Regions from separate parts of the Homo sapiens genome. Here all the other regions are linked to region 2. Evidence: fine-mapped expression QTL. A gene starts in region 2. Each other region holds a variant in brackets. All regions are shown on one strand. Distances are from middle to middle.

What was found. PIP is the estimated chance that this variant, and not a neighbour inherited with it, causes the effect.
Region 1: its variant is fine-mapped to the expression of AP5M1 in whole blood (TOPMed, PIP above 0.99).
Region 3: its variant is fine-mapped to the expression of AP5M1 in whole blood (TOPMed, PIP above 0.99).

What each region holds. Positions count from the first base shown.
Region 1 is chr14:57,286,221-57,294,643 of GRCh38, reverse strand. It overlaps AP5M1 (adaptor related protein complex 5 subunit mu 1), which reads right to left. Exons shown (of 8, transcript NM_018229.4): 7 at 8,325-8,421; 8 at 1-5,842. The coding sequence ends at 5,760. Among named protein-coding and RNA genes, the nearest start is that of AP5M1, 21 kb to the right of the region's middle. The variant C/T (reference allele first, on the strand shown) is at 4,560.
Region 2 is chr14:57,264,592-57,273,060 of GRCh38, reverse strand. AP5M1 (adaptor related protein complex 5 subunit mu 1) reads right to left here and starts at 4,090. Exons shown (of 8, transcript NM_018229.4): 1 at 3,673-4,090. The coding sequence starts at 3,746. EXOC5 (exocyst complex component 5) reads left to right here and starts at 4,156. Exons shown (of 18, transcript NM_006544.4): 1 at 4,156-4,439. The coding sequence starts at 4,413. RefSeq lists enhancers at 3,926-4,125, 3,773-4,356 and a silencer at 4,666-4,725.
Region 3 is chr14:57,304,214-57,312,694 of GRCh38, reverse strand. No RefSeq gene overlaps it. Among named protein-coding and RNA genes, the nearest start is that of AP5M1, 39 kb to the right of the region's middle. The variant A/C (reference allele first, on the strand shown) is at 4,004.

The DNA of each region.
Region 1 (8,423 bases), 22 kb before region 2:
GGTATCACATTCTTCACACTAAACACACCTATAAAACCAGTGGAGAAAAGAAACTCCAACTTCAACCACTGGCAAATTAATAAGAGTTAATATAAATAAATTAGCTCACACTTTCTTTGAAATTGGGTGTAAGCAGGCTATGTGTATGAAAGAGAAAAATCACAGGGTTTTAAAATAGATATAGTCACTAATTATCTCTTTATAACCTGCAGAGGGCACCCAAGTCCTTTGAAGGAAAAAGTAAAAATTTAAGAGGAATAACTAATTTTTAAATTTTTCATAACAAAATTTATAAACATAAAATATCATTTAAAGAGGCCATTTAAAGGAAACATGTAGTTTTGACTTTAAATGTTCAACAGATTAGAAGTGCAAAATTTCACATCCTACTGGAAAAAAAATTCAGCAGGTGGTTTTTAGTGTGGAGCATTTGTCCATCTGTAAATGCTTGTGCATCATACATTAACATGACACTGATGTCAATTAGGCAGATTAGCTAGGGCATTAGAGAAATCAACCAGACCTTGCAGTATCCTGCTTATAAGGCAAGAAGCTAGTGATACAGATACAGCCTTGTATTGTTCCAGGCTATACACAAACACTAATGTTATATCCATGAAACAGCTGGTGCGGACAGTTGGAGGCTAGTTGGAAAGCCTTCAGGTCATAAGAGTTTTAATCACTTTGTTTCAATCACAAAGGAACTCATGAGTTCCTTTGCAATTTTCAGTTTAATGAATCATTTCATTACTATTAACTAATACTGTGTTTGGAGGAAAGATATTTGAATATTTGCCCTTAAAATATTCTTCATCTTACATGATACTGACATGTTTCACAGGGAAACCCACCAAGTCAGACACACTAGTGTTGTACACATTTACGTAAATTCATATACTTGTATATATATGTTGTGTGTATATATATATATATTCTGTGATGGTGAATTTCAAAATATATCCTGTTTTATTGATTAAATATGACTGCACGGAGTGTAATGATTAAAAACACTAGTTTCTTAGCAACATAGCCATGGGAACCTGCCCTCTATCTTTATAGAATGCCGTTATCTTGTATTTTTCCTGATCCGCAATTCTGCTGTGGTTTAGGAACTTGCTATCAAAATATATTTTGAAACTAGTTATTAAATTGAAACTAGAGGAGGCTGGCTTGGCACAAACGTAAGTTAGGTATGCACTTCTTTGAGTCATTGTTTCAATTTATAAATTAGATCACAAAAAGTCTGAGCCAAAAAAAGTATAATAATCTAAATACATCCCTTGTATTGCAAAATGCTACTAGAACAGTAATTACTAAGCATTAAAATGCTGTATATAACTAAATCATTAATCAAAATCTAATCTTTAAAAACATATTTTGTAACAAATCACTATACTTTTTTTTTAAAGGTCTTAAAATATACTGGAGGAATAAATCCCGATTTGACATCTTACAAGATAAAGACTGACATTGCTATTGAAACAGTTTTAAACAGCAAATTGAGAAACCTACCATGAAACATTACCTTTTCTTTCTCAAAATACTGTGCAAAATTCCATATAATATTTCAAAATTTAAAATTATGGAAGAAGAGGTACTCAGATAACTGAGAAAAAGGCAGGCAGAAAAAATTTAATTACTCGGCTATTTTGGTAATGCTGTCACTTTTTTTTTTTAAAAAAGCATTCTGAAAATGAATGCAATTATTCTTATAATGGAAACACAAGAAGCTCCTTTGCCTCAAGAAAAGAAATAGTTAACAAAGCTTCGAAATCATTAGTCTTAAGGTGGATAACTGTGTACTGCAACACATTTTCCTCAACTGGATTTCTTTACCACACAGTATGACATTTTCTAATGGTGGTGGTGGTGGTAGGGGGAAAGGTGAGAAGAAACCATGCAGCTTAATAAAACAGAAGCATTTTCTCAGTCTAAGTTGTAGCCACTGCTTTGATTTTTGGTTATGTCAAGGCCAGTTAAGTATACCCTAGTGCATGAAACAAAACTAGAAGCAATACTTAGAATGTAGTCTTTGTTTCTTCTTTCTTCAAAGCCTATGTTTCCTAATATCATTGTTAGGCGAAGCAAAAAGAAATGTTTGTTCTATTACGTAAGAAATAAACTTCATTTGGTATTCAATTGACTTTCTAACTTAGCAGACAGGACTTTACATCTTCAAATACTGAAAATAAATTGCATTCTTGGCCCTTGCTTTAAAAGGTTATAGAGAATAAACGCACACCCTGGTAGTGTTCTAGTGATCTCCCTAATCTCAGTTGCACTTTGTCAGAACGAGGTAACTGGTAGTTAAGTGAAATACCCTAGATCAAAGGGGGATTAATCACCAACTGAATCCTTGCTGAATAAACCTGTCATTCAAGAAAATTATTTCCACTGAACTTAGCAGAGGATTGAAGGTATTTGCATAACAGGGACCAACGTACTTCAGCCAGGTTAAAAGGTTCAGAATTCATCCCATGTTTAGCTTTTTGCCTCCTTTTCCTTTCAGCAGCCTGGTACAATGGTTTCTAATCTGATAATACAGCTAACTATCTAAATGATGTCAGAACAGGAAAGTATTGCAAAGTTTGGATGAGGGATGGATCAATTTCACTTTCAGTAACTCCTAAATCTGATTTGTTGGAATTTAAGATGTAATCCTAAAAAAGTCCCTTAAACCTGAGGACTGTTTATTAACACCCCTTTTTTTGACCTTTGTCTTAGGAACAACCACTCTGTTGTGGCAGCAGTCCCTACAGAAGGCCTGGATGATAATTCCACCTACCTAGCTCCCAGGGGTAGTGTAGGAGTCTATCAATGTCTACGAAGTATTTTGAAATACTACAACAAAAACCAGAAAAAAAAATTGGCAATTGTTACCAAGTATAAATGTCTGCCTTGAAAGATCTTAAATCATACAATGTATAAAAACACCATAATTTTAACCTAGTAGAAATACTGAATTGGTGTGAAAAAAATGAAAACGATTTTATGGGACAGACTAATGTTTAATAAAAAAAATTTTTTAAACAAATAATTGTCATCAGAATTCCTGACAAGACTGCTTCAAACTTGACATTTGAATCAATTACTTAAAAAGTTAAAAAAAAATTGCCACCACCGTAAGGGTATTGCCTAAGTACTATATTGCTGGCTCTAAAAAGTTTTTAAAATATTGTTTAGTAAAAAATGGAGAAAAGAAGCGTTTACAAAATCATGAACGATCTTTTCTGGAGTTCATTCTAAAAAATTAACACTTTTTTTTTTAACCTTTCGAGTTTATTGAAGAATAATTACCTATGTGATAGACATCAGATTTCATAATCATATTTTGGCACTAAAAGGGAATTTAGCAATTTTGCATCTAGAGAAGGTCTGACACTATCCAAATCTTTCACTGGAAGTAGTTGCTCATATTCACTGCAAACGCAAAGCATCTTTCAAGTTAAAAAATGCAAAGAATAGTTATCAAAGAAAATGAATAAAATCCATAGTGAGATAATTTTTTAGAAAATGATTGAAGTTTTAACCCAAGAAAGGACTCTTAGAGTGTCTTATAGCTTAGAATAAGAACATGTCAATCACGATTAAGCTTCTGGAATCGGAATCCCTTTGAAATGCAGCTGTTTCTTCTTTAATTGTGGCAACGGACTCTGAAGAAAGGAAAGGTCCAGCCTTAAAGATGAGTAAGGAATACAAAATAGCTCAGGATTAGTTGTGGAGTTCAAAGGTCGCTAATTACACTAAGGAGTTCCCAGACACAGGGAAAACATTAAACAGGTCACCTACCAAACGGGAAACAGACTTTGTCTTCAGAAATTATCCTGAAGTGACAGGTTTCTAGACAAAATCAAAAGCATCACAGTGTGCCCAGCTGATCTCAATGGGATGAAAACCTAAGTTGGTTCAGTTCTGTAGCACTATGTTAGAATGGAATGGCAACAGATGGCATCAGGTTCCCCAACACCTCATCACTTTTCCAGGACACCCTAGATTTTCCTCCGGTTTCTAGAAATGTCAAATAGAAGATTCACTGATTTTTCTAACTGCTTATAAACTTTTGCCTAGGGGATTATTATATTAAATCTTTGCCTACTCACTAGATAAATGCCTCTTGCTTACCTTAGTGTATTTGGTAAACATTTATACAATCAAGATTCCAAATGGCTCCATTACCATTAACTTATCAACATAAGTGAAATGTTAAGCTTTGAGTTTAAGAGAGATCAAATAACTTATAGGGAATGATATTTTCTTCTTTCAAAAGGAAAGTTTTCACTGCTGATTATCTATGATTAAGCTAGAATAACAAGTTAAAATCCTGGTCAGGCAGTTATTCTTTTTTTCTTTGTTACTTGGGATAATTTTGAACATAGAACCTTATGCCATGATAATGCTTTGCAGAAAATGAGTTTATGAGTAGGACTGACCTTAATTAAAAAATCATATTTCAAATCCTAAATTTATATGCCCTATACCTTTAAACTATCATGCTTTCTTCTGAGGAGTTAGCAGCTTTTCTAAGCTTTTCCTTAGAACACTCATTAAAAAACAGAACC[C/T]AAGATATAATCAAATTGAGTATTAATCTTTAATGCATTTTTTTTTCTCATTTGTAAAAAGACATGAATGAAGTTTTGAGGTTCGTGAGATTTCATCTTTTCTTGAATGGTCACTTAAAGTCCAACTTGACAATGAACTGCTCTGAAAACATAATATGATATATAATTGCAGAAGCAGGTAGAGTATAAAGATGATGACTAGATGGTTTCTGAAGAAATCAAGAGAATGGTAAGAAAGTGAGAGTGACAGCTTTAAGGAGATATATACTACATGTGACTAAAATAAGCTTAAATGATACTCTCTACTCACAGAGTGCCTTTTGAATTTTTACCAGAATTCATTCATTAATTTTAACTTAATAAGACACAGCAAGAGCAGTATTAGGTCTAAATTACCTTTAAAAATTTGGCTGCAGACATTAAATGATTACAAAACACTATGATCATCTTCTGAAGGTATTCTACACATCTTAATATGGCTACTGACATCCTAAGCAAAATGTCAAAGTGGCAGATTAACAAGCTTACTTAAAAACTAACTCTAGAACAGAGATTACACACCTTAAGTAGAATTATGCAGATTATTTATTAGTCAATAGGATAGTTCTGATTAAGAAGAACAGCTTACTATTTAAACACTTTTCCTTTGTCTCTGTTGGCTGTTTTTTGAAGAGATGTAGTTGTCTCTAACATGGTCTCTGGTATTCTGTAACAACACCTTATACTAGGAGCTTAGTACTTAGATTTGGAAGAGAAAATAGTTTTTATCTTGCACATTATCTACAACCCACTGGGAGTGGCTGCCTGAATCTCTGAACTAAAAAGGAGCCTGACCCTTTATCCAAGGCTCAGTACAGAAAAGGGCTGTAATTGATTAGCAATGTCTGCCACAGAAACACTAGGAAACAAGTGTGGCAGGGTGACCCAGGACCAGTCTAAAATGAGCCCAAGTGAATCATTACTTTTCTATGTTCTGAATTATACTGGCATAAAATCGAAGGTTAACAAAATTGGAGACATTAGCTTTTAAAATGTCCTTTCAAGCTCTATCAGACTACAAACACCACATAAGACTACTTTTACAATTAAATCATTCAGTGATTTTTCACTCACAGGTTATATGCATCCACATTAAAAATATAAGATTATGATTTTCTTTAAACTGTTATCATTATATAATCCCATTTAAACATGAGACTATTACAATAATAATGATCCATATGTTACTGGAGCAGGGGCTTTAGAATTCCAGATGTAATAATCAGAAGAAATTAGTTTCCGGTCTAAAGAAAAGAAAAAGAAATTAATGATAAGACTATTTCAGCAAAAATTCAACGAGAGCAAAGTCATGATTTTTGAAATTGTGGAATGCAGTTATTTCAAGTCAATACTTTGAAATATTCATTTTAATTTCATATTATCAAGACTTTATTATAACTTTTACCATTTTACAAATATAGACTCATTAAATATTTGAAGAATCCATCTTTGACCTTATATGAAATATCTCTCATTTATGCCAAATCTGCCAATTTTATCTTCACATTTTCTCTAAAATCTTTTTCGTATGGACCATTACTCTGACTGCAAAAACATTAAAAATTTTTCATTGGTTTCTCTTCTATAACCTTATCACCATAGCCCTGATTCTGGGTCTTGCTATTCTTTACCCAAAGTGTCAGAGATATAAATTAACACCTAACTTCCTAGCAACATTCTAAATAGTTTGCTTCACTGGTTTCTTATTATAGTTCTGATCAATTTAAGCCTTTTTAAAAATAGCTTTGAAACTCTACAAAAATGGCAACCTATTTGAACTAAAGTTTTCTGATATGTAAAGTTGAGATAATAATGTTCATTTGGAGTTACACATGTAAATTCTTTATATATATATATAATTAAATATCCAATTAAATATAATTATCCAATTCAGCCTGTTCTACCTTTCTTCTTCATGCCCTTCTTCATAATGAAAAGAATATAGACTATATTGTCTTTTTTGTTCTCTTCAAAGTTTGAGAACGCAGTAACAATGAGAGGCAAGACAGCATACTGTTAAGTGGACAGATTCCAGAGCCAGAATGCTTGAGTATCTGACTCGCAGTTCTGCCATTTGCAAGCTATGGGACCCTAATCTCTCAGTTCCATCAGTGTCCTCATCTGTAAAATGGAGATAACAACACTTACATAGGGTGCTGTGAGGATTAATGAGACAATGCACATAAAACACTTAGAACTTTGCCTGGCATATAGTAAGCAATAAATATTAGCCATTATTATTTAAATTGGTATTATTATTACTAAACTATTTTTAAACTAAGTTGTATATTATGAAAATAGATTTTATTGTCAAGATGATGGCAAAATAAAGTTTTACATAATTGCACAAACTGGCAGTCACATTCTGAAACTAACAGAGGAAAGAAAAGATGGGTCATAATATTAATTTAAAATGAGTTCTTTCAACATATTTTGTATTAAGAAGCAGGTATGTTCCTATCTTGTATTATGTTCTCTGGAAATTACTGCAGTATGTTTAGTTAACATAAATAAATTATTTTCCCATAGACAATCTAAAATACTGGTCTGTTTGCTTTCAGTCTCTCATATATACAACAAAAAAATGATGTAAGAGAAAACACAGGGCAAGCCTAGGGAAGTAAAGAATACTGGTTTATTCTGGTTACATTACATAGTAGAAATTATATTGACAAGCACAAATAGTTGCTTAGAATTCTGTAGTTCTGAGTTCTCTAATTCTCTTGAAATGTACATGGAGAGTCCTTTCCTATTCTTTTTATTTTAGGAACCCTAATCCTTAGTTTAAGAAATATTTATCTAACTATAATAATAAAAATGTGTGTAAATTGGGATTATTCTTATCCACATATATAACAGCTTTATTCTCCTTAATGTATGAGGCAAAAAGGTTGTTTAAGTTTAGATAACTCTACCTCATTTTAGCTACTATTCGATGTTACATATTTCTATTTGATCTGAATTAAATACTTTTGATTCATTTATAAATTGTTTTTTGTCTCATATTTTCATATGTTTCGTGTGTGTGTGTGTGTGTGTGTGTGTGTGTATGTGTGTGTGTACACACATATAGATCTATACTTTACCAACCATTAAACATACTAAAATCAGGAAACGTCTTTTTTATTGTCTTCCTATTGATAGAATAGAGAAGGTGCTAAATAATGCTTATTGATTGCAACATTTGCTAAAGATATTTAAAAGTTTTAAATAAGAATCATCTCTAGTATCTACTAAATCTATACTATACACTAAGCATCATACTAAGTCAATATAATCTTATCTAAACCTCATAACAATCCTGAGGTAAATCGCACTATTATTTCCATTTTATACACAAGAAAATTAAAACTTCAAGAAGTTCGCTAACTTGCCCAAAGTTATACAGCTAATGAAATGGCTGAGCCAGGCTTAAGCCCTGTCTGTCCAACATCACAGTCTCTGTGAATCACATCTCTGAATAACCAGAGAAAAACAAATCCAATTTTACACTGAAGTTCCCCTCTATCCCAATCTTTGCTTATCCAGACCACTTTATAAACAAGAAGGCGGCAGAGGGCAGTGTAAAGTACACAAACTGTTATGTGGGGTAGAATCAGCCCAGAATTTTATAAATTGGGATTATTCTCTAATCTCTAAGTTCTGTTACATTCAAATTTTACCTTAGGTAATAACTGCAAACACCATTTTAATTCCCTTAAGTTAGTTTGAATCTGTGTAACTTACGTGCACTTATTTTTGGTTTTCCTGATGCAAAAACTTGAACTGAATGCTGATCTGCATAACATCCAGTAAGTGTGTAATCTAAGATCCTAAAATGAAGCT
Region 2 (8,469 bases):
GGCTGAGGCAGGAGAATCTTGAACCCGGGAGGTGGAGGTTGCAATGAGCCGAGCCGAGCCGAGCCGAGATTGTGACACTGCACTCCACCCTGGGCAACAGAGTGAGACTCCATCTCAAAAAACAAACAAACAAAAAGAAAAACACCAAGCAAGCAAGCAAGCAAACAAACAAACAAAAAACCCAAAAGCAGTTACCCATGTGTAGGTAAATATCACCTACATTCTGATGCATTTTCTTGATTAAGAAAGGGGAAGAATCAGGTAGCACACCAGTAATGGCATGGCATAGCAGGTAAATGCCATTTATTTCTCTAAATCTCTGTATATGAATAGTAGAGATCTCTGGACTAAACTCTAGTCCAATCTCTTATTATCTAGTTTTCCAGAGGGTAATTAAAGTTCTTAAGTATAAAAATTTCACAATTGACTGTGAAGATAAGTTAATCTGGGAACTTACACAACACCCCAATATGTGTTCAATAAATATTTTGTTGGATGACTCAACCTATCATTTCTAATTTATTATATGCTTTTTCTAAAACAGGATTCAAGGCTTAAATGGGCCTACAACTATGGGGTATGATACCGACCTAAGCCAGATGTAAGCTGATGCTATTATTATCTGGAAAGCAAACCTTTAAACCAGAATCTTAACCAAGTTTTGTTATAGGAAATAAGTACTTAGATAGAGAAAACATCATTTGCCTTCTTAAATCTTAAATATTGGCCACTTATTGACACTTATAAAGTGTCAGTGCCTATCTGTGTAGCTCTAACACCTCCCCCAAGAGGTTAGAAAACTGAAAATATAATAAAATTTAACTAAGTCATTCAATGATACAGAATTAAATTATTTGAACACAACTTGCTACCTCCATAAATGTATTGAAAAGCCCATCCAAACATATCTGACTTTTTATTCTGAAATAATATCCTGAACACAGTGAAAAAACATTCTGAAAACTAGGATTTAAGAAACTTATTTACTTAAGCAGTAAAAAGTTCACCTCTATGAAATATTAAGATAAGCTACAAAGCAACAGATATTGTATTGGTACAAGAAAGACAAAGTACTAGAACTGAGACAGACCAACATTTATATGAGGGGACATAACTAACACTACCAGTAGCCTCACAAATTAATGAAGACATGACATACTGCTTAAAAGATGATGTCAGAAAAACTGACCCACACTACAGAGAAAACCGAAATGGGATTCCTACTTAACATCATATCCAAAGATGGACTACATATGGGTTAAAGACCTAAATGTAGCAGATGAAATTATAAAGAGAAGACAATGTAGGAAGATATTTTTGGGAAATATGGGTGAGAAAAAACTTCAACAAATTCCCAAAAGCAATTAACTAGTTTGATTGCATCAAAATTAGTGATTTCTGTTTAACCAAGGGCAACATAAAGTTAATTGACAATGGTAAATTAAAGAAAATATCTGTACTATCTAAAAATGACATAGGACTAATACCAAGAATACAAAACAAACTCCTACAAATTCAGAGGAAAAAATAAGCAACTTTCAAAGAAAAAAAGGACAAGACATGTACAGGCAATTCACAGTAGAGGAAACTTAAAGGACTAACAATCATTGCTACATACAGAAATGCAAACGAAAATAAGATGTTCTTTATTGGCAAAAATTACATGTTAGGAAAGAATGGAGATACGGGAACCCCTTCTTGCTGCTAGTGAGTGCGTAGGTGGCTGAAAGCATTCTGTGGAGCAGATTATTTGGCAGTCTTTAGTCAAAATCGGCATAGACATGCCCCATGGACAGATTTGAGGATGCATACTTTGGCAGTGTTCTTTGGAGGCAAATTTGGGAGAGGTCATCACTAGGTAAAGGGGACAGGTAAATGTGTAGGATGTGAACCATGAGTACTACAGAGCAAGAAGAAACAATGGCCTAGATTTGCACTGTCCAACATAGTAGAACTACCCACATGTGGCTATTTAAACTTAAATAAAAATCAATTAACATTACCCAAAATTAACAATTGAGTTCCTCAGTTATGCTAGCTGCAGCTCAAAAGCTCAATAGGTACTTGTGGCTAGTGGCTACAGTATTAGCCAGTACAGATTAAGAACATTTCTCCTTTCCATCATCATAGAGAATTCTATTGGACATGCTGCCTTAGATGAACACAAAGTATCATGGATGTTTCTTTAAAATAGTGTTGAGAAATGTGACAAATGTAACATTAGGAAGTGAAGTCTAAAGCACACTTAATTATGTAATTTGAAAAATGCATACAATGAAAAAGAGTAACATCGAAGATGTTAAGAGTTATCTGTCAGTGGGAAGGGAACGGCAGTTAGAAATAGGTAACCAAAGGGAATATAAGTAAAATGAGAGATACTTTGTACGGACTGATGCGCCTGGTAAAACCACGTACTAAAGAATATTATTAATCTCCTGTATTTGAGGTCCAACAACAAATGTTGGGGTTAGTGTCAGCCAGAAATCCTGGGGGGAAATGGTAAACTCCAACTCTGATGCCCTCAGGAACAAAAACTGTTAAGGTTGCAAAGAAGGAATTTTTCATATCCCCATTGCCAACCAATTTTCATTTAAAATTAAAATCTTTTTTTTCTGCCTCAATCTCAATTCTACTATGGTACTACTTCACTATAAGCTTTCTTCAGGGAAGAACGAATTGTGACAAAAAAGAACTATCAATGGCCAGAGAATAAAAGGTGAAATAGACCCACTCGATTGCCACCAACATTTTACAATGAGTTACTGTACAATTCCCTTAACAGAGCTATTTTGATTACACAGGGCAAATTCTAATAGTGGGACCAGATCAACTTAACACAATATATGAAATAGTGAATACATTTTTTTGTGTTTCTATTTTCTTCAACAATTAGGAACTGTAAACTGATGATTTCTACCATTGACACATATTAACAAGATAAAAATAAAAGCCTGGGCGGGGCGCGGTGGCTCCTGCCTGTAATCCCAGCACTTTGAGAGCCAAGGCGGGCGGATCACGAGGTCAGGAGATCAAGACTATCCTGGCTAACACGGTGAAACCCCCTCTCTACCAAAAATACAAAAAATTAGCCGGGCGTGGTGGCGGGTGCCTGTAGTCCCAGCTACTCGGGAGGCTGAGGCAGGAGAACGGCATGAACCCGGGAGGCGGAGCTTGCAGTGAGCGGAGATCGCACCACTGCACTCTAGCCTGGGGAACAGAGCGAGACTCCGTCTCAAAAAAATAAAAACAAAAAAATAAAAGTCTGATATAACTTAGCATGGATTTTTCAGTAGAATAAGTTAAAATGTTCTGGAACGATTTTGTCAATGCATGTTGAAAAATCTGAAAATGTTTAGTGCTCAGTAAATTTTCTACCGTTCCCTTAGTCATCTCCATTTTAATTCTAAGCAGACGGAGGTCATTTTAAAACACAATACTAATAGAAAACATATACCGTAAATAATATGTACCAGTCATCAACTCAATTCTCACAACACTGTAAGGTAGGACTATTAAAATCTCCATTTAACAGACGAAACAGAGGTCTGTTAACTGGCTAGCCCAAGGTCACGCAGCTATTCGTGGCAAACCTGGGCCACGAAGCACCACAAAACTATGCTACTTCATCGATCTTCTGATCCATCATCCCTGAGGATTCAGATTTGCATTTACCTGGAGAATCTCACGGTGCCACAAAGTGGAGTTCCCGGTTCGTGGCTTATGAGCCACACTGCCCGCTGCGCCATGGTTAAGTCAGTAAAGCATTAGCTCATCTCATAATTAAGGTCGCCACCGAGGAACAGCGCAGACCGGCTTTCTCAGACAGACTCTTAACAGAAGCCCTGAGGCTCATCCTGCGCCGCATACCGGTCGCGCTCAGCAGAGAGGTTAGCTTTTTTAGGTGAAGTCACTAACGCTTCTGAGTCGCTCTAGGCCAACACACACCACAAAAAGTTCTAAGAACCCCAACCTATAACCTTGAGAAATTTACCTATACCCTGCAACTCCGGTATTTTCTTCCTCTAAATTCTACTTCCGGAATGGTGGCCCGCAAGGATCAAAGTTCCTCATACACGGTAGCGTCGAGCCTTTTTTCGGTTCTTTCGCCGCTCGTTTTATTCGCCGGCCCCTCCCGACAACCTCCCTGGCGCGCGCAGTTCCACTTCCGGCGTATGAGGCGGTGACAATGGGAGCAGCGCGGGCGGCGCCGGGAGGCAGCTGACAAGCGTTTGCGGCTTCGCTTCATGGCCGCTCTCCCGCCCCTCCTGGGATCTGTGGGGAGCTGGGGAGCCCGCAGCGGCCCGGAGCCGGAGCTGGCGAGCCGAGCGGAGACCTGTGCGCCGCGCCTCTGAGGCGCAGCATGTGAAGCGGAGACGGCATCCAGTGGGGGGCGAGCCTCTCAGCCGGCCGGGATGGCTACCACGGCCGAGCTCTTCGAGGTGGGCCCCGGCGGCTCTACAGGGAGTGGCAGGCCCGGGGTTTGCAGGCAGCTGGGTGGGCGGGCCGAGGAGCGGGCGTTTGCTGGCTGCCCAGGAGGAGCCCTCGGGAGAGAGGTGCGAAACAGAAGGGTTGGGGTGGCAGCTCCGTGTCAGCGCGGGCGGAGCGTGAAATGGGGGAGGGGTGCTTGGGGCCGAGGTGGGCTGGGCGGCCGGTCGGCAGAGAGGGGAAGCCGGGTGTCCCAAGGGAGGAGGGTTGCTTTTGTTTGTGGGGGCAAGAGGGAAAGTCTGGAAGGTTCGGGTGTTGGAAGATGTCTACTCCGGATGAGTAGTGGGAAGGGCTGACTCAGGACGAGGAAAGAGAGCCAGGAGCCTCAGGTTGGGCGAGTCTTGTCGCTGGGGTCCTCGCGGGAATAATAGGAGGAAGCCACTTGAGATCGGGACTCTTGGGGGCTTCTCGTTTTGAGTAATTATTCCATTAGTAAGGTTGCAGGTGGCATTCATAGGACTGCCAGTTTAACCTGACATTTGAAAAGGCTGGGACAATTTTTTTTTTTTTGGACAATAAAGGCCTACTTATCTCTTTCGACTGAAGAGAGATAGACTGAAGGGAGGCAAAATTCAAGTGAACACTTTATTTCATGTAATACATAATAATACACTCGAGGCATTTACGTGTATTATAAAATAAAAAAAGTTTATAAAATAAAACGAACACTTCGTTTCATGTATATAATGCACCTTAAGTGTATTATATGCATTTACATGTATTATAAAATCACCTAACTGCAAGCTAGAGAATCCTTAATATGTAATAGTGAGAATACTAATGTCTTTCCTCGAGCGTTTACAGTATCTAAACCTTAAAATTTAATTTCGTGAAGTCCGTTGTAAGAAGCTGTGATAAAAGTTTGAGATAATAGAATAGGAAAACTCTAATTAGGCTACAAAACAATGACACGTATAAAGCATCTCCTTGTGTGAAAGAAATGAAAACGGATAAGAAAAAGGAAAGAAAGACCCCTTTTTTGTGTGTGTGCTTGTGTTTCACATTGAGTAACAAAAGTGTAATAATTGAGAAGACTGTAATCCACAATAGGGAACTTCTCCATAAGTGAAAATGGTATCCTTTTTCTGCGTAAGATTCAGCAGTTTTTGTGGCTTACAATTTGAATGCCACAGTTTTAATAACAAATGGAAATTTACATTTGTTATTGTTACTATATTTTGCATATCAGTCAGCTTTTGGATAGATAATGCTTTTTTTGAGAGGAGTAATATATGTTATTGTTATAATAAGTTGTAATAAGACAGTAATTTGTGAATGAAGGATTGTAATTACAAGAAAGACTTCAGAGATATTGTATTTTCTCACTTAAGTGTTGGGAGATATGCTACATTAATTTCTGTAATTCCAAAATTGTGCCATCTGTTTATTGACACAAGAACGGGGAGACATTTTTCCTGCTAGGAACTTTTACTGTGTCCCTAGGTACTAAGTAGTGCTGTGGTTCCTTGTTTTATTTTTCACATCTTAAAAAGGGAGAAAACGATGAAGTTGTATGAGATCTTTAATTAAGGTATTTGCCGGCAAGCCAGCTCTTAACTGAAAACTGTTATATATGTTGTCATACAGTTCATAAGACATTATCCTTTGAGTTAATCCTGCTTGACAGTTCCAGTTGTACCTTGGACCATCTTATGTATATTTTTATTTAAATGTTTGACCACATGATTTCAGTAACTTATTTGGAAATATGTTTGATTTTTTTTTTTCCCCTCTCCCTAGCGGGGAAGGGGAGGAGGTGGGGAAATATATATTTTGCTTTCTGGGGTCCTGCTATTAGGTTAAGTAGTATATATATACGTTTTATATATATATATATATACACACACACACATACACATATATATATATAACGTATATATAACATACATATATATAATGTAATTTAGTGACTCTAGTTACATGGTAGCCAGTAAGATTCTGTGATAATAGAGACAGTAGCCCTTAGACTACCCTTAGGCCAGAGGGTTTTTAGGACAAATTTAAACGTATTTATAGATCTTAAAACTGACGTGACTTTTTTTCTTGACTATATGTAGCTTGTTGCTTCATCATAATTAAAAGCATAATAGTTACAATTAAGTTTCAATAGTTATAATTAAGAAGTGCATTTATCTTTTCTGGTACTGCTATGAATCCAGCCCTACAGTGGACTCTACTCTTGAGTAAGTTTTCATCCCCAAGTGAAAAGTTGATCTCTTGGCCTTGGAGGGAGGAGGAAAAAAAATCCTGTCACTGCTCAGTTTCCTGTAACTACTGCCATAGCATCTAGGTTGTAGTAAGAGTCACGGGAAGTATCTTTTTCTCCTGCTTCCCTTTCTTAGTCCCAGCTGGAGAACTGTGGAAAACGGAAGGCAGGATGTAGTCAAGGATGTTTGGTTTTTATGCATCCTGATTTTCATGCACTGTTAAATAGAATTATGCTTTCACTTTTCATGTTAGGAGAAGTTAAATGAAAACAAAATTAAGCTTTTGAATCCATGACATTTCATTATGTTAACTCTGCTTCTTTTAAAATCTTATTGGTCCCATGACTCTCAATGAAAACAACTTCATATAACAAAATCAAACTGTAATATATTTCCTCAGTTGACCGAAATGATTTAGTAATAGATGATTTGGCTATTGTAATAGTGTATATCCTGGAAGTTTCTCAGAATACCTTCTTAGTTTCAACTTTTGTTGACAGATCTTTCTGAAAAGATCCATGTACAGTGTTTTAAAATCTCCTCAGGATAGACATTCTGAGTAAGGATTCTTATGTGGTGTAGATAAATTGTATCTTCTACATATACAAAGTGGCTGGGCTCAGAAATTCCTTTTCTTTGTTTTTGAGACAGGGTCTTGCTCTATCGCATAGGCTGGAGTGCAGTTGGGTAATCACTGCTCGCTGCAGCCTCTACCCTCCTGGCACAATCCATCTGCCCACCTTAGCCTCCAGAGTAGCTGGGACTAGAGGTGCCTGCCTCCATGCCCAGCTGATTTTTAAAAATTTTTTGCAGAAATAAGGTTTTACCATGTTGCCCAGGCTGGTCTTGATCTCCTGGGCTTAAACAATCTGCCCACCTTGGCCCCACAAGGTGCTGGGATTACAGGTGTGAGCCACCGTGCCCCGCCAGTTCTTTTTATGTTGTTGCAAATGTTCCTCTCTCCTTTTATTGTACTACTGAGGACATTCTTTCCTCATTTGCTTAATTTTTTCCCCCATAATTCTTCAAGAATCTTCGCTTTTCTCTGTTTGGGCTACCATTACGGGAGAGTTCTTGGTTAGTAACTAGGGTTAATTATTCATTCATTCTACAGATATTTGTTGAGTACCTTTTAAGTTCAAGATAAAGTTCTGAAATTGACGAGGCTGCATGTCTCAAAGGGCATGCCATAGAAATATTAATCCTATGAGATGTGTCGCAAAAAAAAAAAAAAAGGGTTCAGTGACCAAGTAAGTTATGGAAATGAGCATAGTCTGTTTCGTTGGAGATTTGCGGTATACCTTAATATGTTAAAGATGATGAGAAGTCCATTTCCCCAACTTTTTTCACCATGAGACTGTTTTCTTTCTTTTTTAAAGAGACTTTTATTTTCTACTGCTTGTTAACTTAATTTTGTGAATTACAAGGTACATATTTTGGAAAATAGAATTAAGTATAGAACTTGTCCTTATCAAATAGAGGGAGAGAAGGTGGATATATGATACTATACTCTTAAAAATAAGGTTATAAATGGTTTCAAAGAGGTCTAGATGTGCCATAGGTGTTGAGAGGATGGGAAGATTGCCTCTAGAAGAAAGAAAGGATTAGAAGGTGGCATTTGAATTACCTACAGAGGATAAATTAGATTTGAGTTTGTGGAACTGGATGGAGGGACTTTTCAGTAAAGCAGACAATAAAAGCTAAGACATAAAGGGAGGGTTGTAGGCCCTGGAGATAAGGGGAGCATTCATTTTGGCTGGAGTATATATAGCACACA
Region 3 (8,481 bases), 40 kb before region 2:
ATGAGTAAGAAAAATCTTCCTTAGGTACTTTATGTATTGAGATTTCTACATGCTGTAGTAATTTTTTTCTTCTTTTCTTTTACTATTCGACCCAAAAAACTAATTAAGATGAAAAAGAGAAAAACTTTTTTTTCCCCCTGAGCATTTTCAAGATAGTCTTGTGAAAATAACTCTCCTTTGAAGGGGTGTTAAAGTCCCCCAGGATTCAAATATAATAAACTTGATGTCACACAGTCAAATGTCCATAGAAGCTACCTGGGTGTAAATAAAGAGAAGCAATAGAGCAAGAGACATAATATATGGCAGAAGGCCCTTGACCTTAGAGTTGAGGGACCACAGAAAGCAGCAGGAACTGTGGAGAACTGAACAGGGCATACCCTATTTAAAGAGGGTCCTCGCTATTGAACTTCAACCTCTTGCTGCTTTGTGGAAATGAACAATCCAAGTTGTCAAGGGAAACCAGAAATCTGTGTTTTTAATATGAAAATTTAAAATAAGATATTAAAACAAAATATTAAAATGTTAATATGAAATAGCCCAATTAAAACATTTTAAACATTAAAAAGTAGCTAAACTTTTTTTAAAAAAATACTGTGCAGGCCAAAGAAAATGTATTTGTGAAGCAGGCTGAGTTGTAGGTCTCCAGTTTGCAACCTGTGCCATAGTCTTCTATTTGCCCTGGATTCATTTTTCAAGATTATATAGGGCCATTCACAATTGTCATGGCAAATGTAGCCCCAAAGATTGATATTCATCTCTGGAAATATTAGGCTTAGCAGGATGCAAAAATGGGAGATTCCGACTTACTAAAAAAGTGGGCCAAAAATCCTATATGCTGTTTGCCATAAGAGTTACACTATTTTTTCACAAAGAGTTTTGACTCCATTTCTCAAAACCCGCCAGCTTTTTCACAGTGCTTCTAATCAGAATTGAATTTTTTTGTTTTTTTTTGGGGGGGGGGGACGGAGTTTCACTCCATCGCCCAGGCTGGAGTGCAGTGGCACAATCTCGGCTCACTGCAAGCTCCACCTTCCGGGTTCACACCATTCTCCTGCCTCAGCCTCCCGAGTTGCTGGGACTACAGGCGCCTGCCACCACGCCCAGCTAATTTTTTGTATTTTTTAGTAGAGACGGGGTTTCACCGTGTTAGCCAGGATGGTCTCGATCTCCTGACTTCGTGATCTGCCCGCCTTGGCCTCCCAAAGTGCTGGGATTACAGGCGTGAGCCACCGCACCCTGCCTCTGATCAGAATTGATCTTGCAATGCTGTACAGCTGTATATAGGAGTGAAGAAGCTCTCTATCCATTGTTAGGAAAGGACTGCCAATATATATTCTTAGGTGAAAAAAATCAAGGTGAGGAACAATGTCTAGTGTGCTACTTTTTGTGTTAAAATAGAGGAAAATAGAGACATATTTGTCCATTTGCTTGTATATGCATGAATAAAATCTAAAAGGTTACGTTTTAAAAATTAGGAACGACCTGTGGGGTACTGGGCAGATGGCCGGGCGCGGTGGCTCACGCCTTAATACCAGCACTTTGGGAGGCCGAGGCAGGCGGATCACGAGGTCATGAGATTGAGACCATCCTGGCTTACATGGTGAAACCCTGTCTGTACTAAAAATACAAAAAAAAATTAACCGGGCGTGGTGGTGGGCGCCTGTAGTCCCAGCAACTTGGGAGGCTGAGGCAGGAGAATGGCGTGAACCCGGGAGGCGGAGTTTGCAGTGAGCAGAGATTGCGCCATTGCAGTCCAGCCTGGGTGACAGAGCGAGACTCCGTCTCAAAAAAGAAAAAGAAAATGGGCAGATGGGAACAAACTGGAGAGAAGGCGTTCATTATATACCTTTTCCTTGAGTTATGATATCATCTTTTTGAAAAGTTAAATTAAAAATTATTCTATTTTTAGCCACGTGCAGTGGCTCATGCCTGTAATCCCAGCAATTTGGGAGGCCGAGGCGGGCGGATCACTTGAGGTCAGGAGTTTGAGACAAGCCTGGCCAACATGGTGAAACCCCGTCTCTACTAAAAATACAAAAAATTAGCCAGGCATGGTGATGCATGCTTGTAATCCCAACTACCTGGGAGGCTGAGGCAGGGGAATCGCTTGAACCGGGAGGCGGAGGTTGCAATAAGCTGAGATTGCACCATTGCACTCCAGCCTAGGCGACAAGAGTGAAACTCTGTCTCAAATTTAAAAACAAACAAACAAACAAACAAACAAAAAAACCTATTCTCTTTTAATCACAAATCCATACCAAACTAACTTAAGTTTGAAAAGGGTGGTGTATTGCCCTATGTACCTGAAGAGTCCAGGAGCAGGACTAGCTGCACAAGGCATGGCTGGATAAATTAGGACTTTTTTGCTTTTGTTTTCTTTCCTCTCTAACTCTCAACTCTCAGTTTGAGGGTGTTGGCTGCATTCTCTTACAGCAGATGCTGCCCCCTAAGATTCTGGAAAAATGGTTGCAAGATGTATGAGTCACATGCCTACAGTGGCTACAATCTATTATTATAGATTGCCAAGGAGGAAGAGAAAATATCTTTCTTCTTTGGTAATAAAGTCCAAAAAAGAACTCTGGATCATCTTAGGCTACATACCCATCCCTGATCCCTGAACCAATCATTATGGTCAGAAGGTAGAGCACTTTGATTGGCTAGGCTTAGGTCACATGGGGATATTTAGCTTGTCTTCACTTGTACCACATAGAAAGGGCAGGGATATTCCCTAAAGCTAGGGGTGATGGGCCATGAACACAAATCTATTATAGAACCAAATGGGCTCAAAGTTAAAGCAACCCTTCTAAAACCCTGTGGCTCAGATCTTTATTAAAGACCTGCTGCAGAACTCAGGGAGCTGCAAGATGCCAGGTGCATGGAAAATGACCATTAATCCTCCAAAAATACACTCGCAATTTACATAGGCTGCAAAGATGAGACTAGAATATGACATCTTTTCCTAGGCCCCTACCTGATTAAAGTTGCTATTTTGCATACCAGGAAACAGAGTAAGCCCGTTTTCCTCACAGATTGTTTATTTCACTCAGGTATAAATTGTTTGAAAGCCCAAACTAAAATGATGAGAGAAAAGAAGAAGCAATACAGCAAGCTCAGATTTCAGAAATGATGAATTAATGTTCACCAACTTGACAGATTTTTCAAAAATAAAAACTCAGCTACGTTCATTAAAAAGTCATCTAGTCTGATGACTGAAGACAAAAGAATGAATGTCCTGTCAGTGAGTTAGCTAGTTTATGCATCCTGCAGCTTTTTCAGGACCTGGGGAAAACTCATTTGCTTCAAGGACTGATTCCTCTCACAATGCATAAGGTGTGGCTATTTTTGAGTGTACCTAAATTCTCTCTTGAAGGCTGAATCAAGCCACTTGAAACCCTTGAAATATCAGTTTCTCTGTCTTTAAAATTGAGATGATAGTTTTGTTTTATAAAATTGTTGGGAGCTGCATTAGTGTCTGCTATAGACTGAATGTTTATCTCTCTCCACAAAGTCTGTACATTGAAATCCTAACCTCCAGTGTGATGGTGTTGGGAGTTGGGACCTTTGCATGAGTGGAATTAGTGCCCTTATAAAAGGGACTCCCAGAGAGTTCCTGTTCCCTTCTGCCACATGATGTTACATGAAAAGATGTCTGCCTATGGACCAGGCAGCCAGCCCTCACCAGATGCCAAATCTGCTGGCATCTTGATCTTGGACTTCCCAGCCTCCAGAACTGTGAGAAATAAATTTGTACTGTTTGTAAGCCACTCAGTCTACAGTAGTTTGTTACAGCCACCCAAGTGGATTAAGACAGTATCCTACTTAGTCAATTGGGTGGCCATGTTTGTGGTAATTTGTACTGCATTTGTACAATTTGCATTTGTACACTTTGTGTAATTTGCAATACAAATGAACACAAATGTAGCTTAAAACAACACAAAATTATTATTCACAGTTCTGGAGGTCAGATGTCCAAAATGGGTTGGCAGAGCTGCATTATTTCTGG[A/C]GGCTCTAGAGGCAGAAGCCATTTCCTTGCCCTTTCCAGTTTCTAGAGGCTGCCTACATTCCTTGGCTCATGGCCATATCACTGATGTCTCTCACAGTTATATCTTCTTTTCTGACTCTGACCCTTGTGCCTTCCTTTCAGAATGACTCTTGTGATTACACTGGCCCAACCAGGTAATCGAGGATAATCTTTCATATCAAATCCTTAATAACATCGGCCATGTAAGGTAACATATTGACAGTTTTTGGTGACTAGGATATGAACATCTTTGGGGGACCATTATTCTGCCTACCACCAGAGTAGAAAATGAAATAATGTCTGTGAATTTTCTTAGCACTGTGCTTGCCACATATTAGATACTAGATTAATGCTGATTTTAAGTTTCTAAGTTTTATCAATTCAGATATTTGACCATGCATCCTGTCTAGCCTTACATTTTTGGATGTTTGATATCCTGGTAGAGCAGAATATATAATATTATATTCCCATGAATACCAACCTAATTTTTTATACTTATGAGCTCTTTGTACTTGAAAGAGATTGTTTATCCAAAAATAAAGGGCAGTCCTTGGATGGAACTATTTTAAGCGGCAAAATTGCCAACACGCACATTCTTTTCAGCTACTCTGTAAGGAAGACCAAATGTACCACATGGATTGTGGAGAATTTTCAGAGGATACTCAATGTCTTAAAGAATGTTCCATCTTATAGATGGCAATAAAAGAGTTAATTCATCAAGGTACACTGCAGGAGGTCAAGATTTGGCAGTACAGGTGTTTGTACCTTAGCACATCTCCCCATTTGTCTTTAGGTTAACAGGTTCCAAGGGCATCGCAGTGTCCTTCTTTTGGGGGGGGTCCTGCTGGCCCAAAATTATACTCAGCATGGCCCAGTGGCTCTGATTCAGGGGGTTGAATGGTGAATTTTGATGCTTTTCTCCTGGCCTATTATACTCCAAGGACTTTAATGGCAAAACAGAACACGCTACCACATTGAAGAATGTGCAGTGGACTTTGAGAGCCTCCCAAAATGATTCATGAAGCCTAGTCATATATCTAAAGAAAGGTCAAGATTAAGGCTTTATGTATTCTAGCAGAAAAAATGAACGCCCATGATTCGCAGAGGGGTCAATCTTTGCAGTAATGAAGTTTATATTTGGGATGATGGGCCATCCCTCATATATGTTCTTTTGGTTAATAATAGTCTTTGTTTAGTAGTCACTCTCCTAGGAGGGAATGCTAATGTAATACTCACTGAGTTTTCTGCTGCTGGCTGGAGATTATCAATAGGTCATAAATAAACTACCATCACATAGAAAAGACAGTAAGATTATATATACTCCTACTACCTCCAATTACTGTAAGAGTAACAATTATAAGGTTGTACTCCTACAGCCACCCTAGGGCGAAAATGAGAGGAAAATGTTCCATTAGCTTAATGAAGAGAACACGGCAGAGCCACAAATTTCCTCACTATTAGCACCCATGGTGTGCCCCAGCACAGGAGGGAAGCTCAAGTTCCAGGGTAACAATTAAACTTTCTGACAATTAGCCCCTGCAAGGTATGGTCTCTGAACCTAAAGGAGACATTTCAAGGAATCCCATTTACATTTTTCTCACCTCTTGCCTCTGAAATTTGAGTCATTTGCTTGTGGAAACGGAGGGCATCAGGGCAAAAGTTTCTTTTACAGATGGCTACAAAGCATCATTGGCAGGCTTGCCAGAGAGCACCCATCAACTGAATGCCCCTGTTAGTAGAAGGGAGGGTTAAGAAAGGTGAAAGATCTGCAGAGAAATGTTCACACCAACCTAATTAGGGAAAAGATGAACTGGATCAATGTGAGTACTTCAGCTTTAGTGTTATTTGCGTTAGAAAGAAGACCACTGAAGAATAAAAATAGATGTAAGTCCTGGCATTGCAACTGTCAAAGAGTCAGGTTTGCTCCTGGCAGGCCTTGTATTAGAGGGAGAAGAAATCAGGCTCCCCAGACAGGCTGCCCTGTGTTCACATTTTGGCTCTACTCTCATCAAGCCCCGATTTTTCTCCTCTGCAAAATGGAGGTACCAGTAGAACAAACTTCCACGGTTTTGGGGAGGATTAAAAGAGAAAATCCATAGAGATTAATCAATAGTAAGTGCTTGACAAATGTTAGGTATTATTATCTAGGTTCAGAATTAGCCTACAACACCATGCATTTGTATAGCATAAGTAAATATGTGTGATAATGAATACTCTCAACATTTCCTTTGCCAAAATTTCCATGTTCAAACTTTACTTGGGTGTAATTAAATAGTTTACTTAAGATCCTCTCAATTTAAGAAGTAGGGTAGAATATTTATACAATTTGGAGATGTAACATGTCTGAACTGTTCTACAAATTGATCATAAATATATGGATAAATATGGGCAAATAATGGACTTTTCTCTCATTATCCAAAACATAAGGGGCTTTTGTTTGGTCCAACTTCTTTACCCAATTAAATGGAATACTGATGTTGAGCACACCAGTCCACTACTTCTCTTGCCCCTTATTGCAGCCAGAGCCTGTTGAAAAGTGGGTGGTCTACTGCCTATCTCTCTGGGCAAGACAAAGCAGCTCTTAGACAAAGCCCAACTTCTCTTCCTTGGAGCTGACTTTGACCATGGTGCAGCTCTAACGTACGCCTCTTTCTCTTTTATACCCCACATCTTCCAGGGTAGCAGTTGGCCTCAGCAACTCTAGATCAGTCACCTCATGAATGCAGTTCCCCCTCCCCATAATTTTGCTCAAAATACTCTCAGTGGATCTCCTGAATTGAAAATTTCCAACCTCTGACTTCCAATTATAGTTACTAATAGAAAGCTTAAAAAAAAAGTCAAATAGCAGACTATCTTATTGAGAAACAGTCTTGCTTAGGATACAATATTTCAAGCATTATCTTTCATACCTGTGGATTTTACACTGATGTTTCAGAAGGTAGTTGGCAATTGCAATTAGGCTTTAGGTGTTTTGTGAAACTACAACAGTTGTTTTTTTAAAAAATCTTTTAAAATAGCAAGATACTGAGTTTGAGAAATAGAAGTACTTCTCAATGATACCTTTGCCTGTCCTGTGACACCTAGATGTCCTTGTCATGATTAAGCTTGGGCCACTTCTTTTTCCCGGTGTGTGGATTTTGCCTTTCACAGCACTTGCTTCTCTTTTCCCAATCATTAGAGGGTTCACTTTTGCCCCCTGCTACCTGGCTCTCCCCCATTTTGTGACCACTATACATTACGTTGTAAAAATTGTACCCCACTTCCATTCCTAGGACTCTTTGTCCTGATTACCCCTCCCCTCTTTTTTTAACTCCAAAGAATTTATCACCACCTCATATACTATGTATTTTACTTATTTACATCTTTATTTTCTATCTCATCTTACTGTAGTTAAGCTCCTTGAGATCAGGGGATTTTGTTCTATTCATGCTGATCTCCAGTGACTAGAATAATGCCTGGCACATAGTAGATGTTCAACAAATAGTTATCTATAGGTAAAATGTATTAATTTTTAAAATTGTGACCCAACCTCCAAAATTATAGATGAAGATTTTTATAACTCAACTTCCTTAACTATGAACCCTGTCATCATTGTCATCATTACTTTTTTCTTAATTTGTCTCATCTCTCATGGCTACTAACAATAAAATTTGATACCTACACTAATTTAAAAAGAGATCTAATTTAAAAAAAAGAGGTTGACTTTTTAAAAGATTTAAAAAGAGATGGATAAAAAAACAGATAATCTAATCGTCTTGCTTCCACATTTTTCAGATTTAGAAACTGAAAATAGATATAATTGTGATTGCACAGCTACTTGCACTGTGTGGATCTTGGGGAGTGGGGGAGTGTTGTTTTAGTTTTAAGATGGAAAAGCCCTGTGACTTTATAAAAAGATTTGATAACCTGTGCTCATGAGGATAGATGCTCCCATAAGCTCATGAGCCCTAATTCCCTGTTTGCAATCACGAGTAATAATTTTGGCTGTCCCTTTATCAAGGTGGATGGACCACATGAGTAGGATGAATAAGGAGGTGCTGATGTAGCATAGTTTGAAAGGTATCTAACAGTATGGAGGCCCTATAGCCCCAAATACAGAACACTGTCAATGTCAGAAATCGCACCATTGGCCTTTTTGCTCAGCTTTACTCACTTTGCAACATTCTATCTGAAAAGCGAATCCTCTAATATTAGAGCACGTGAAGTCGCTAATACTTCAGTGGGGACACAGAGACTTGGAAGTGATTCCCAAAATCTAGGCACACAGAAGTACTGAGATTTTAGGTATGGAGAAGGGGCAAAGTGGATACTAGTAATGTACTCAAAGAGAAAGCAAAAATGCTGAGGGTCAACTGCCCACCTAAGGCCAGCTCTGAATTTCCTCCCCAGTAAAATGGGTCAAACGAGCCTGCATAGTGTTAATGGTGGAATATGATGCAGAACTAATCACGTTGTATAAA